Homo sapiens: one gene and its partners. The protein of the gene in region 1 interacts with the protein of each later gene in a pairwise test. Each region holds a gene or a part of one and is shown on either strand. Other genes may lie near its edges.

The links. The genes of interacting proteins can lie anywhere in the genome.
Region 2: the proteins of MEP1B (region 1) and APOC3 interact in a protein complementation assay, tested with the Homo sapiens proteins (one study listed by IntAct).
Region 3: the proteins of MEP1B (region 1) and ARL14 interact in a protein complementation assay, tested with the Homo sapiens proteins (one study listed by IntAct).
Region 4: the proteins of MEP1B (region 1) and CYSTM1 interact in a protein complementation assay, tested with the Homo sapiens proteins (one study listed by IntAct).

What each region holds. Positions count from the first base shown.
Region 1 is NC_000018.10:32,207,039-32,210,538, reverse strand, and holds part of MEP1B (meprin A subunit beta isoform 1 precursor), read right to left. Parts: intron 3,288-3,500; coding exon 3,069-3,287; intron 2,421-3,068; coding exon 2,268-2,420; intron 39-2,267; coding exon 1-38. UniProt on the Homo sapiens protein: Membrane metallopeptidase that sheds many membrane-bound proteins. Exhibits a strong preference for acidic amino acids at the P1' position. Known substrates include: FGF19, VGFA, IL1B, IL18, procollagen I and III, E-cadherin, KLK7, gastrin, ADAM10, tenascin-C.
Region 2 is NC_000011.10:116,828,543-116,832,706, forward strand, and holds the start of APOC3 (apolipoprotein C-III precursor), read left to right. Parts: upstream 1-1,364; 5' UTR 1,365-1,398; intron 1,399-2,027; 5' UTR 2,028-2,040; coding exon 2,041-2,095; intron 2,096-2,230; coding exon 2,231-2,354; intron 2,355-4,164. UniProt on the Homo sapiens protein: Component of triglyceride-rich very low density lipoproteins (VLDL) and high density lipoproteins (HDL) in plasma. Plays a multifaceted role in triglyceride homeostasis.
Region 3 is NC_000003.12:160,675,982-160,678,948, reverse strand, and holds ARL14 (ADP-ribosylation factor-like protein 14), read right to left. Parts: upstream 1,790-2,967; 5' UTR 1,603-1,789; coding exon 1,024-1,602; 3' UTR 501-1,023; downstream 1-500. UniProt on the Homo sapiens protein: GTPase that recruits MYO1E to MHC class II-containing vesicles via the effector protein ARL14EP and hence controls the movement of these vesicles along the actin cytoskeleton in dendritic cells.
Region 4 is NC_000005.10:140,178,188-140,181,687, reverse strand, and holds part of CYSTM1 (cysteine-rich and transmembrane domain-containing protein 1), read right to left. Parts: intron 1-3,500.

The DNA of each region.
Region 1 (3,500 bases):
TACAGAGCTGCTATCGAAATGCATGAAGAAACCAGAACCTGTTAAAGAAAAGCAGAATTGAGAGAAAAACAGATACTGGGTATAGGAATGTGTGTTTGTTAATGGTGGTGCTAGATTCTTTACGCGAGGCATAAGTAACATCCATATATAAATCGCCAGGGAGAAATGACAGAAGCCTAAGCTACATATCTGGCACTTGCAAAAGCTAGCAGATTGACATAACAGTATAAAACTCAAACCTCTCTATTATTTATAAAACGTTTACTTACAATAGTAGTTTTCCGTGGGCACTAATCCTTGCTTATCTTCATTTGTTATGAGCTATAAAGATAAAGCAAGTTTAAGTATCAAATGCTAACTTTTTAAAAATCCACTGTAAGGCTGCAGGTCAAGCCCAAACAGCAGGGCTAAAAGGTAGATTCTACATGGGACACCTTTCAAGTGTCCAAAACCCTGGTCCAGCTCCAAGTGGAAAGAGCTACCATTGGACAAAGATGCTACAGAGGGTTGTTCCCCCGCTGAGAATATGAAAAAGGAAAATGGAAATTAAGTCAAAACGAGGGTTTGAAACTTGGGTGGGTAGAGAGTTGTAGCATCTGTGTCTCCCAAGGGTAATTCAACGTGAACTTCTAGGTCTTTCTGGAAAGGTGAACACACACTGCGGACAGAGGTGAGAGTCCAGCCAGGAAACCAGGGCCTTGGCTGACCTGCCCGCCCCCCTTTTTTTTTTAAACACTTTCTAACTTCTTTGGCTTCAAACTGTCACAAAAAAAGAAGGAAGAAAAAAAGAAAAGGAAGAAAGAAATTCAACTTTCAGAAGATATTGTTAACTACAGCAACCATCTGGGGAGATTCACATTTTAATATTTTTAAAATGATACTTGTAATGAAAAAATTGAGAATAACTGAACCTGATAATTTCAGAGGCACCTCCCACTTATCTGCTTTCATTATCTGCAATACTTAACCTTCTAAGCCATCTCTAAAGAAGGCACAGCTAGTAATTCTGGTTTGAGTGTATATATATTTTCTTTCATTTTTTTTTTTTTTTTGAGACAACGTCTTACTCTGTTGTCCAGGCTGATACGCAATGGTATGATCTCAGCTCACTACAACCTCTGCCCCCCGGGTTCAAGTGATTCTCCTGCCTCAGTCACCCAACTAGCTGGGACTACAGACATGCACCACCACACCCAGCTAATTTTTGCATTTTTAGTAGAGACAGGGTTTCACCATGTTGGCCCAGCTGGTCTCAAACTCCCAACCTCAGGTAATCCGCCCACCTTGGCCTCCCAAAGGCCGGGGATTACAGGCATGAGCCACTGCACCCGGCCCAATTTTCTTTACCTTATTTCAAGTATTCGCTTAGTTTCCACTATATGCAGGGAATTGTGTTGGGCATTTAAATATGGTTCTAGGAGCAGGCGATTTATGAAAGAGACAACATTAGGGAACCTTTCCCTTACCACAGAAATTAGTTTTCAAAAACAGAAAAAAGTGAGAGCTACCTGGTCTGGATTCTTCTTCTTTTCCCCCTCCCTCCCTATCTACTTTCCTCTGGTCTGAGTAGGACCACTATCCACTATCCAAATATGCATTTAAAAAGAAAAATAAAAGGAAAAGCACCTTTTTGCCATTAGAGGCCTCCAATTCCTGCCTAGATCATCTGAGCTATTAAGCACTGGCCCTAAGTTCTGAAGTCTAGTTTTACATATTTGATGCCAGAATAAGCAAATACGTAAAAATTTGGTCCTTGTAGCCAAATAACTACTTAAGGCAAAACAAAATGAAAATGGAAAAGGATACGCATCTGAAGAAAATTAAATAAACTCTGCTTTTTAGATATTTTTGTAACAGGAGCATATAATCACATCCAGCTACAGTTCTGAAACAATAATTCGCAGCCTAGTGCTGTCCATTGGAAAGAGTCTCTTGTATTCTGCAAACTTCTAGGAAACAATAGTACTGCCCCTGAGATAAGAGGCCTTGCAGGAGGCCCAGTCTGGTACACTCTCCTATGGGAACGCACTGGTAGAGGCATCACAGAGCCCAGCTCTGACTTGTAGAAAGAAAAATAAACTCAGGAAGGAAAAGCAAAGAAATTAACAATGTCTTTATCAGGTGCAAGGCCTACTTCTCAGTAGTAACCTAATGAATAATCATTAATAATTCTGATAGAAATTAGAGATAAAATCCCATTCTTTCATAGAGAAGTATGTGGCTGTAGCCACTGAGTATACAGTCTAGGAATATCTCACTCCTGTTACCTTGGCACTGGCCCATGTTGGAGTGATCACTCTCTGGCCCCCTGGGAACCTGTGAAACCCGTTGCCAGTCAGCATTATCTCCTGAACTTTGGATCATGCCACACACATTTTCCAGTTCAAAACTGCACGAGTCCATAAAACTCAAGGAAGAGGCTACAAAAAGCAAAAAACAATTATTGACACTCATACAACATGATAATCTAAGTAACAAAAACTGAACTTATCACAGTATTAGAAATGCCAGGTTGGTATTACAGGGAACACCTAGCTGATTCTGGATGATGGTGGCTTAAAGATCCCTCTTTATTTGCAGAACCCCTACAAAGAAGGTAATGAATTCTGTAGATCTGAATAAGCTCCCTGCCTGAAGTCTTTTTTAAAAAAAATTTTCTAATTTGTAGAAACCTGAGTCTATACTCCCCTAGTTATTCGAATCATTAAGCCACAATCCAGATTATTTGATCCCATTCATATTACAACTAGACATATCATTTTGGCTAAAAGGAAGTGTGAGTATCAATCTGACCGAGGTTTGAATTAGTAACAGCTTTAAAAACTTGCCTGAGGCATATTCCTACAGGACCCAATTTGTTTTTAGATCTCAACACCAGACGTGGTGAAAAGAAAAATGCTGCTTCCAAGTTGTAGATTGAGATCTGAGTGCTATTCTGTTTATTTCCTGAATATCAAATCTCTATAATCGCAGAAACCCCACCAATGCTTGACAAAATGGCACAGACCATCATTTTTTCCTACATAACAGCGGAAAATATAAGTCATTTCAAAGAACCTGTCACATACAGCAGTTATACAGTTGATTCAACTTTAGGAGATCAGAGTCACTGAAATCCATTCGTTGGCCGATCACATCCTCAAAGTCTGAGATTCTTGTGACAATTGTCGGCTCTGTTCCATTTTGGAATGCAGTTTTACTGTAGTGCATTACTGAAGTGTAATCATAGGGAACATTCAGGGAATCTGATATATCGTCACTATAGGTGTTAAAATTGTGCTCTCTGCCTAAAGGATAAATAAAAAATCTTTACTTGATGTTCACAAAATTCAGCTTATCTTACTCCAAATACTGCTCACTTAGAAATGGAGAATATAATAAACTCAAGCAATTTTTGCTACAACTAACAACAGTTTCATTATTCCCATCTTACAATATAATATTCAAGCTTAGAACTGTGATACCAGCAGTCACACTGAACATATCTAAGGTTCTATTGC
Region 2 (4,164 bases), on another chromosome or scaffold:
TTAGTTACTTCTGAGAGGACAGCTTGCTGCCAGAGCTCTATTTTTTATGTTAGAGGCTCCTTCTGCCTGCAGACTCTGCTGTCTGGGAAGGGCACAGCGTTAGGAGGGAGAGGGAGGTGTGAGTCCCTCCATGGACCCGCTGCTTTGTACTTCTCTATCTCATTTCCTTTTCAGCACCACTCTGGGCAATCAGTATTCCAGCCCCATTTTATCCTCAGAAAATTGAGGCTCTGAGATGTTATCTCTGTGACCTGGGTCCTATTACGTGCCAAAGGCATCATTTAAGCCTAAGATGTCCTGGCTCCAAGGTGTCAGCATCTGGAAGACAGGCGCCCTCATCCTGCCATCCCTGCTGCGGCTTCACTGTGGGCCCAGGGGACATCTCAGCCCCGAGAAGGGTCAGCGGCCCCTCCTGGACCACCGACTCCCCGCAGAACTCCTCTGTGCCCTCTCCTCACCAGACCTTGTTCCTCCCAGTTGCTCCCACAGCCAGGGGGCAGTGAGGGCTGCTCTTCCCCCAGCCCCACTGAGGAACCCAGGAAGGTGAACGAGAGAATCAGTCCTGGTGGGGGCTGGGGAGGGCCCCAGACATGAGACCAGCTCCTCCCCCAGGGGATGTTATCAGTGGGTCCAGAGGGCAAAATAGGGAGCCTGGTGGAGGGAGGGGCAAAGGCCTCGGGCTCTGAGCGGCCTTGGCCCTTCTCCACCAACCCCTGCCCTACACTAAGGGGGAGGCAGCGGGGGGCACACAGGGTGGGGGCGGGTGGGGGGCTGCTGGGTGAGCAGCACTCGCCTGCCTGGATTGAAACCCAGAGATGGAGGTGCTGGGAGGGGCTGTGAGAGCTCAGCCCTGTAACCAGGCCTTGCCGGAGCCACTGATGCCTGGTCTTCTGTGCCTTTACTCCAAACACCCCCCAGCCCAAGCCACCCACTTGTTCTCAAGTCTGAAGAAGCCCCTCACCCCTCTACTCCAGGCTGTGTTCAGGGCTTGGGGCTGGTGGAGGGAGGGGCCTGAAATTCCAGTGTGAAAGGCTGAGATGGGCCCGAGGCCCCTGGCCTATGTCCAAGCCATTTCCCCTCTCACCAGCCTCTCCCTGGGGAGCCAGTCAGCTAGGAAGGAATGAGGGCTCCCCAGGCCCACCCCCAGTTCCTGAGCTCATCTGGGCTGCAGGGCTGGCGGGACAGCAGCGTGGACTCAGTCTCCTAGGGATTTCCCAACTCTCCCGCCCGCTTGCTGCATCTGGACACCCTGCCTCAGGCCCTCATCTCCACTGGTCAGCAGGTGACCTTTGCCCAGCGCCCTGGGTCCTCAGTGCCTGCTGCCCTGGAGATGATATAAAACAGGTCAGAACCCTCCTGCCTGTCTGCTCAGTTCATCCCTAGAGGCAGCTGCTCCAGGTAATGCCCTCTGGGGAGGGGAAAGAGGAGGGGAGGAGGATGAAGAGGGGCAAGAGGAGCTCCCTGCCCAGCCCAGCCAGCAAGCCTGGAGAAGCACTTGCTAGAGCTAAGGAAGCCTCGGAGCTGGACGGGTGCCCCCCACCCCTCATCATAACCTGAAGAACATGGAGGCCCGGGAGGGGTGTCACTTGCCCAAAGCTACACAGGGGGTGGGGCTGGAAGTGGCTCCAAGTGCAGGTTCCCCCCTCATTCTTCAGGCTTAGGGCTGGAGGAAGCCTTAGACAGCCCAGTCCTACCCCAGACAGGGAAACTGAGGCCTGGAGAGGGCCAGAAATCACCCAAAGACACACAGCATGTTGGCTGGACTGGACGGAGATCAGTCCAGACCGCAGGTGCCTTGATGTTCAGTCTGGTGGGTTTTCTGCTCCATCCCACCCACCTCCCTTTGGGCCTCGATCCCTCGCCCCTCACCAGTCCCCCTTCTGAGAGCCCGTATTAGCAGGGAGCCGGCCCCTACTCCTTCTGGCAGACCCAGCTAAGGTTCTACCTTAGGGGCCACGCCACCTCCCCAGGGAGGGGTCCAGAGGCATGGGGACCTGGGGTGCCCCTCACAGGACACTTCCTTGCAGGAACAGAGGTGCCATGCAGCCCCGGGTACTCCTTGTTGTTGCCCTCCTGGCGCTCCTGGCCTCTGCCCGTAAGCACTTGGTGGGACTGGGCTGGGGGCAGGGTGGAGGCAACTTGGGGATCCCAGTCCCAATGGGTGGTCAAGCAGGAGCCCAGGGCTCGTCCAGAGGCCGATCCACCCCACTCAGCCCTGCTCTTTCCTCAGGAGCTTCAGAGGCCGAGGATGCCTCCCTTCTCAGCTTCATGCAGGGTTACATGAAGCACGCCACCAAGACCGCCAAGGATGCACTGAGCAGCGTGCAGGAGTCCCAGGTGGCCCAGCAGGCCAGGTACACCCGCTGGCCTCCCTCCCCATCCCCCCTGCCAGCTGCCTCCATTCCCACCCGCCCCTGCCCTGGTGAGATCCCAACAATGGAATGGAGGTGCTCCAGCCTCCCCTGGGCCTGTGCCTCTTCAGCCTCCTCTTTCCTCACAGGGCCTTTGTCAGGCTGCTGCGGGAGAGATGACAGAGTTGAGACTGCATTCCTCCCAGGTCCCTCCTTTCTCCCCGGAGCAGTCCTAGGGCGTGCCGTTTTAGCCCTCATTTCCATTTTCCTTTCCTTTCCCTTTCTTTCTCTTTCTATTTCTTTCTTTCTTTCTTTCTTTCTTTCTTTCTTTCTTTCTTTCTTTCTTTCTTTCTTTCTTTCTTTCCTTTCTTTCTTTCCTTTCTTTCTTTCCTTTCTTTCTTTCTTTCCTTTCTTTCTCTTTCTTTCTTTCTTTCCTTTTTCTTTCTTTCCCTCTCTTCCTTTCTCTCTTTCTTTCTTCTTCTTTTTTTTTTAATGGAGTCTCCCTCTGTCACCTAGGCTGGAGTGCAGTGGTGCCATCTCGGCTCACTGCAACCTCCGTCTCCCGGGTTCAACCCATTCTCCTGCCTCAGCCTCCCAAGTAGCTGGGATTACAGGCACGCGCCACCACACCCAGCTAATTTTTGTATTTTTAGCAGAGATGGGGTTTCACCATGTTGGCCAGGTTGGTCTTGAATTCCTGACCTCAGGGGATCCTCCTGCCTCGGCCTCCCAAAGTGCTGGGATTACAGGCATGAGCCACTGCGCCTGGCCCCATTTTCCTTTTCTGAAGGTCTGGCTAGAGCAGTGGTCCTCAGCCTTTTTGGCACCAGGGACCAGTTTTGTGGTGGACAATTTTTCCATGGGCCAGCGGGGATGGTTTTGGGATGAAGCTGTTCCACCTCAGATCATCAGGCATTAGATTCTCATAAGGAGCCCTCCACCTAGATCCCTGGCATGTGCAGTTCACAATAGGGTTCACACTCCTATGAGAATGTAAGGCCACTTGATCTGACAGGAGGCGGAGCTCAGGCGGTATTGCTCACTCACCCACCACTCACTTCGTGCTGTGCAGCCCGGCTCCTAACAGTCCATGGACCAGTACCTATCTATGACTTGGGGGTTGGGGACCCCTGGGCTAGGGGTTTGCCTTGGGAGGCCCCACCTGACCCAATTCAAGCCCGTGAGTGCTTCTGCTTTGTTCTAAGACCTGGGGCCAGTGTGAGCAGAAGTGTGTCCTTCCTCTCCCATCCTGCCCCTGCCCATCAGTACTCTCCTCTCCCCTACTCCCTTCTCCACCTCACCCTGACTGGCATTAGCTGGCATAGCAGAGGTGTTCATAAACATTCTTAGTCCCCAGAACCGGCTTTGGGGTAGGTGTTATTTTCTCACTTTGCAGATGAGAAAATTGAGGCTCAGAGCGATTAGGTGACCTGCCCCAGATCACACAACTAATCAATCCTCCAATGACTTTCCAAATGAGAGGCTGCCTCCCTCTGTCCTACCCTGCTCAGAGCCACCAGGTTGTGCAACTCCAGGCGGTGCTGTTTGCACAGAAAACAATGACAGCCTTGACCTTTCACATCTCCCCACCCTGTCACTTTGTGCCTCAGGCCCAGGGGCATAAACATCTGAGGTGACCTGGAGATGGCAGGGTTTGACTTGTGCTGGGGTTCCTGCAAGGATATCTCTTCTCCCAGGGTGGCAGCTGTGGGGGATTCCTGCCTGAGGTCTCAGGGCTGTCGTCCAGTGAAGTTGAGAGGGTGGTGTGGTCCTGACTGGTGTCGTCCAGTGGGGACATGGGTGTGGGTCCCAT
Region 3 (2,967 bases), on another chromosome or scaffold:
ACCTGTACCTTTGTAGGGTCACTGGGAGTGAGGGACCCTCTAAAATACCATCTCCTGCATGAAACATTTCTTGTTTCCCTGGTTAAAAAGAGTATCTCCTGCAATCGCACTTAGCACTTATTGCCCTACTCTAGCTACTAGCTTTATGTTGTTTCCTGCTGTGAATTGTAGGTCTCTGAGAGCAAAGTCTAGGTCTGGTTCCTGTTTGATCAGTACAATGAGCTGCACATATGTTTCCAAGCAATGGCTGTTAAGCTGAATTCCAAGGAAGCAAGACTCGGGGCTGTAGCCTAGAGCTAAGCCCTGAGCCCAGATCTTGCCCTAAACTCCAAGGTGCTACCCCGATCACCAGACCTTTAAGTTTATACACTTCTGCTCCCTATGGCAGAACACAGGCTCTGAGCAATTAGCAGCCTGAAGTTCATTGTTTAAGATTCATTGGAGGAAGTTCCCAGCAATAGATTTCAAAAAGCTGGCAGGAATCCAGAAGAACAGCTTTATTTAGGGAATAAGAAAGCTTTATTTAATAGGGAATACGAATTTACAAGATATTAACATTACGCTTTTTCCACTCCATAATTTGAAGTTCATTTTTTACACCACCCAGCTGTTACATAGGAGCACGGTGGAAATTCAATACCTGTTACAGCTGGAAACAATCTGGAAGAATTCTGACTCTATTAGCAGACAGCTTACTAAAACTTTGTTCTAGTAGTCATATAAAATAATTTATTTGGTCCCAAGTGTCACTACTATATTCAAAGTCATCCAATGTGATAACAAAAATTGTAGAACATTATACGTTTTCATTCCCAGTGATCATTGCCACAGTTTGCTAAAGTTCCTGGCTGAAAATAAATATTTTCTAGATATCATTCTAAGTTGTTTAACTAAATGTAGATGAAATAACATCTCAGGAAAAGTTTGTCAACTCATTAATTTGATTTCCTCATTTGGCATGGAAAAACAATTACCCTTTCAACTTCATCAGTGTCTCTGTAGAGACTTGGATTTTTCGCAGCCTCAGTTCTGCTTGAAGAACGCCAAAGTGTCTCCTCTTGATTTCATGTGGCTCTTCACAAATCCAGTTAATTTCCTGAACCCCTGGGCCAGCCCCTCCCCTGTGAGGGCACAGCAGGGTTGCACATACCAGTTCCGGTCACTGCAAAGCTTCTTCACTTTGAACATTCTGGTGATGTCCTCAGCAGTCAGAGCTCCAGGCATGTCTTGTTTGTTGGCTAATAGAACAACAGGCACATTTTTAATGTGTTCATTCTTCAAAATGTGCTCAAACTGTCTCTGAGACTCTTCCAGTCGCTGTTTGTCTGTACTGTCCACAACATACACCAGCCCATCGGTGTTCTCACAGTAACAGCCCCAAACAGTTCTCATTTTTTCCTGTCCTCCAACATCCCAGACTGTGAGTGAAAGATTCCTTTCCAACTCGATCATTTCCACATTGAAACCTATTGTAGGGATGGTGGTAATATCCTTAGCAAGCTTTAATTTATAAAGGAGAGTAGACTTCCCAGCTGAGTCAAGTCCCAAAAGAAGAACTTGGGCTTGTTTGGTTTGCGGATTTTTAGAACCCAGCGAACCCATTTCAGCCTTTTTCTCTCTCTGTCTCTAAATACCTTTTTTTTTTTTCTTTCTTTCTTTCTTCGAATGGCCAGAGACAATGTGTCCTTTCTGGATCTCACATGAAAATGTTAGGAAGAAAGAAGAAAGCAAATTCTTCATGCTGTATTCTAAGAACAAGAACCTAGATGTGTTTATGTTGTAGCTTATCAACTTGATTATGGGCAAACAGTATTTTATTTGCAGTCCCAGCCAATCCTGAGGGATCTGTGGTATGAGTAACCAGCCAATGCCATGGTGACTCAAAGGGGAAATTCTCTGTGAATGAGTAAGATTAGGAGAGGCCTACCTGGCTGATGCTGCAGTTTTGTTTTCTTTCAGGTGCTAGAAATCTAGAGGAACCTGAAGGTTCAGACACGCAGAGGAGCATGGTTTAGTAGCAGAATAAAAACTTAACTTTTCATTTTAACTAACTTTTAACTTAAATTTAACTAAACTTTTTGTGTAACTTTTTGTGGAACTTCTCTAGGTATTCAACCATTTATCTTATCCCAGTTGTAAATAAGGAACCAGGCTTCTTAAGTTGTGAAGAGAGAGTTATTCTCACACTCTGTCTGCAGTATCTTAAATCCGCCTTGTTCAGATTACTCAGTAGGAAACTTTAAACCACTCAAGGTTATCTGAACCTTACTCCCTAATCACATACAGAATCACTTTCTTTAAAATTCTAGGCAGAGAATTTACACTACTGCAGTCACAAAACCAAATATATGAGGGGGAATTTATAACACGAACAGTTTTACATTAAGCAGTCCAATTAAAGATGGCAAATAAAAACATGCATTTATTTCCTCTCCTTCCCAAGACTCCACAGAATAATGGTAAAGGCATTAAAAGAACATATAGGCCAGGCATGGTGGCTCACGCCTGTAATCCCAACACTTTGGGAGGCCGAGGTGGGTGGATCATGAGGCCAGGAGATCAAGACCAGCCTGGTCAACATGGTAAAACCCCATCTCTACTAAAAATACAAAAAAATTAGCTGGGCGTGGTGGCCCGTGCCTATAATCTCAGCTACTTGGGAGGCTGAGACAGGAGAATCGCTTGAACCAGGGAGTCGGAGGTTGCAGTGAGCCGAGATCGCACCACTGCACTCCAGCCTGGTGACAGTGAGACACTCCGTCTCAAAAAAAAAAAAACAAAAAAAACATATAAATCCATAACAAAACAGCAAGATAATTCATCAAAGGGTCAGAAATTTTAACAAAATTCTGGAAAATGGAAACTAGATGGAAAAATGAGTGATAACTGATATAGCAGGATAAAGCCAAGGCTTGGAGTGCTGATGCAGAGGAGATAGACAAGAGGTGACAGGTATGGCAGACAGAA
Region 4 (3,500 bases), on another chromosome or scaffold:
TAGTGAGACCCCCATCTCTATGAAATATAAATAAAAAATTAACCAGGCACAGTGATATGTGCCTGTAGTCCTAGCTACTCAGGAGACTGAGGTGGGAAGATCTTTTGAGCCCAGGAGTTTGAGCCTGCACTGAGCTATGATCATGCCATGCACTCCAGTCTGGCAGATTGTCCCTAAAGCAAAATAATAATCAGTAAGTAAATACAATTATCCCTCATTAGTTTCTCACACAGCCACCACCAGACATTAAAGGCCACCAAAAATTAGTTCAACAAAGTTAGCAGAGCCAGAAGGGTGCAGAAACTGCGATCAAAGATTAGATTGGCTTTAGAGAGGGTGGTGTTGGGGAGGAAAGGCTGTTAGTGGGGAAGAGGCAGAAGGGCAAAGTCTGGAGTGTCCAGGAAGCTAGTGGCAGCAGGAAAGCACTAAGTATTCGACTTAACAATAAGGGCTCACAGAATAGCCACATTCTTACAAATGTCCCCCTCTTCACACACTTTCTCCCCAACTGACTCTGCCTAAGATTCTGAAACTGAAAGCTGACCAGTAAAGTACTGCGTGCAGCATTAAACGTTTAACGTGGCAGAAGTCTAGCACCATTTCCCAGGTCTTCCTCTCCCCAAATGTCTTTGTAGTTCAACTGTTTCCCATCCCTACTTTTCTCTGAATAAGAAGCATGCCTAGATAGTTTTCAGTTACGATGTTTTCTGAGCCAATGCTCTTGAGACTGGCTAATGATTCTTTAGTACAAATAATCAGGAAACTAGTGATAGGAACCTCTGAATAAGGCATTTACTCTTCAGTGAGTAAATTCAGGTAGATCAAACCCTCCTCCCACCATGACCATCAATATTCTCCCTTAAACCATTTAATGAAAAGAGTTTAGAAAAATATAAATCATCTGTTGTTTTGGCAAAGTCATACCACAAGCTTGCTGCCCACAGAGACTGGATTCAAACCATTTGTCTCCTTTGCTTTAGATGTGAGGACCTACCCAGTTTCCAAGATCTGACTTGGAGGCCTAAATCAATAATAATATTCCACATACATCTCCTAAAAGCTATAAAGGAATCATTCCAAGCTCACTTCCTTTTGAAGACTCCTTTGTGTAGTGCCCAAAATGGTGTGAACATTTTTGGTTGTAAAGTGGGAGGGTCAGTTTATGTTCAATTCCCTTGCTTTATACTACTGCTGTTTAATTGCTGACTCCCATTTTATAGCCAAGCCAATTAGTAGCCTTGGCCAAGCGTGAGGAGCTTGGAAGCCTGAAACATGGCACTCAGCTAAGCCTACAGATAACAGAAAGCCTTTTCTGTCAGAATTTCCCTCATGAGAGAGAGCTTGACCTGGCCAACAAATGTCAGAAGTCTAAAAGATGGATGTTGTAGTTCAGTACGTAGTGTCCCTGGGCACATCAGCAAGCACTCGAATCCTACTAGATTGAGTGACAGGACTGGTGGCCTGACACAGGTGAGGGAAATTTTAAAAGATGACTATTTCACTCCTCATCCAATTTACTGAACAATCTTACTCCCTTTTGTCTCTGACCAGCTTAATAACTTACTCCTTTGAGGGCTGTGACACTTTCTGATAATACTCTTGCTGTTAAAAAAGATGCTGGGTCATAGGCTGCCAGTTCCACAGCCTTCTGTTACTGGTTTACTCCAGGCACTCCAAAAAAAGCCAAGACCAGGTTAACAGAGAATAAAAGAAAAAAGAGAGTGAGGCTGGGCGCGGTGACTCACGTCTGTAATCCCAGCACTTTGGGAGGCTGAGGCGGGTGGATCACCTGAGGTCAGGAGTTCGAGACCAGCCTGGCCAACGTGGTGAAACCCCGTCTCTACTAAAAAATACAAAAAATTAGCCAGGCATGGTAGTGCATGCCTGTAGTCCCAGCTACTCGGGAGGCTGAGGCAGGAGAATCGTTTGAACCTGGGAGGCAGAGGTTGCAGTGAGCTGAGATCGTGCCATTGCACTCCGGCCTGGGAGACAGAGCAAGACTCTGTCTCAAAAGAAAAGAAAAGAAAGAAAAAAAAGAGAGTGAACAATCTGAGCTTTACTATTTATATATGAAATATAAACAGGAATTTAGTTAGCCTCAGGCTTCCAAATTTTTATTTTTATTTTTCAGACAGAGTCTTCCTCTGTCTCCCAGGCTGGAGTGCAGTGGCACAATCTTGGCTCATTGCAACCTCCGCCTCCTGGGTTCAAGCAATTCTTGTGCCTCAGCCTCCCGACTTAGCTGGGATTACAGGCGTATGCCACCATGCTCAGCTAGTTTTTGTAATTTTAGTAGAGACAGGGTTTCGCCATGTTGGCCAGGCTGGTCTCGAACTCCTGGCCTCAAGCAATCCACCCACCTCGGCCTCCCAAAGTGCTGAGATTACAGGTGTGGGCCACCGTGCCCAGCCATTTTTTTTTTTTTTAAGCGACAAGATGTCATTCTGTCTTCCAGGCTGGAGTGCGGTGGCGTGATCATGGTTCATTGCAGCCTCAAACTCCTGGGCTCCAGCGATCCTCCCACCTCAGCCTCCTGAGTAGCTAGGATTACAGGCACATACCACATGCCCAGCTAATTTTTAAAAATTTTTTGTAGCTATGGGGTCTCCCTGTGTTGCTCAGGCTGGTCTTGAACTCCTGGGCTCAAGCGATCCTCTTGCCTCAGCCTCCCAAAGTGCTAGGATTACCGCACCGGGCCTCAGATCTTGATTACAGGCTGATTAGTAACCAAGCCCATAAAACCCCAGGAAAAAACAAAGCCAAACAAAACAAAAAACCAGCAAAAAGTCCAGGCATGGTAGCTCATGCCTGTAATCCCAGCACTTTGGGAGGCTGAGGCAGGCAGATTGCTTGAGCCTAGGAGTTTGAGGGGAGCCTGGGCAACATGTCAAAACTCCATCTCCACAAAAAACACAAAAAATTAGCTAGGTGTGGTGGTGCAGGCCTGTAGTCCCAGCTACTCAGGAGACTGAGTCGGGAGGATGGCTTGAGCCCAGGAGGTGGAGGTTGCAGTGAGCTGCGATTACACCACTGCACTCCAGCCCAGGCAACAGAGCCAGAACCTGTCTCAAAAAAATTAAAAAAACCAAATCAGCAAAAAGGTCTTAGATAGCCAGGCATGGTCGCCTGTAGTCCCAGCTACTCACAGGGTTGAGGTGGGAGGATCACTTGAACCCAGGAGTTAGAGACCAACCTGGGCAACATAGCAAGCCCTGTTTCTGAAAAAAAAAAAAAAAAAAAAAAAAAGGAAGGACTTGAATAGGGCTTTTCCAAAAACTTAGAACTTCAAACTCTTTTAAAAAACTTTTATCACATCTCAAAATATACCATTCATCCAAGAATTAAAATATTCTGCTTTGGAGGAGCTCAAATTTCATATAAGCCTCTCATTAATTCTCCTTGGTACCTCTGTGAGGAGGTACTGACCCGCATTCAAGGTCAAAGAAAGTTTCCATGCCAAGAAAGGAGTGCCCTGCTCAAGGCCTTAGTTGACAAATGTG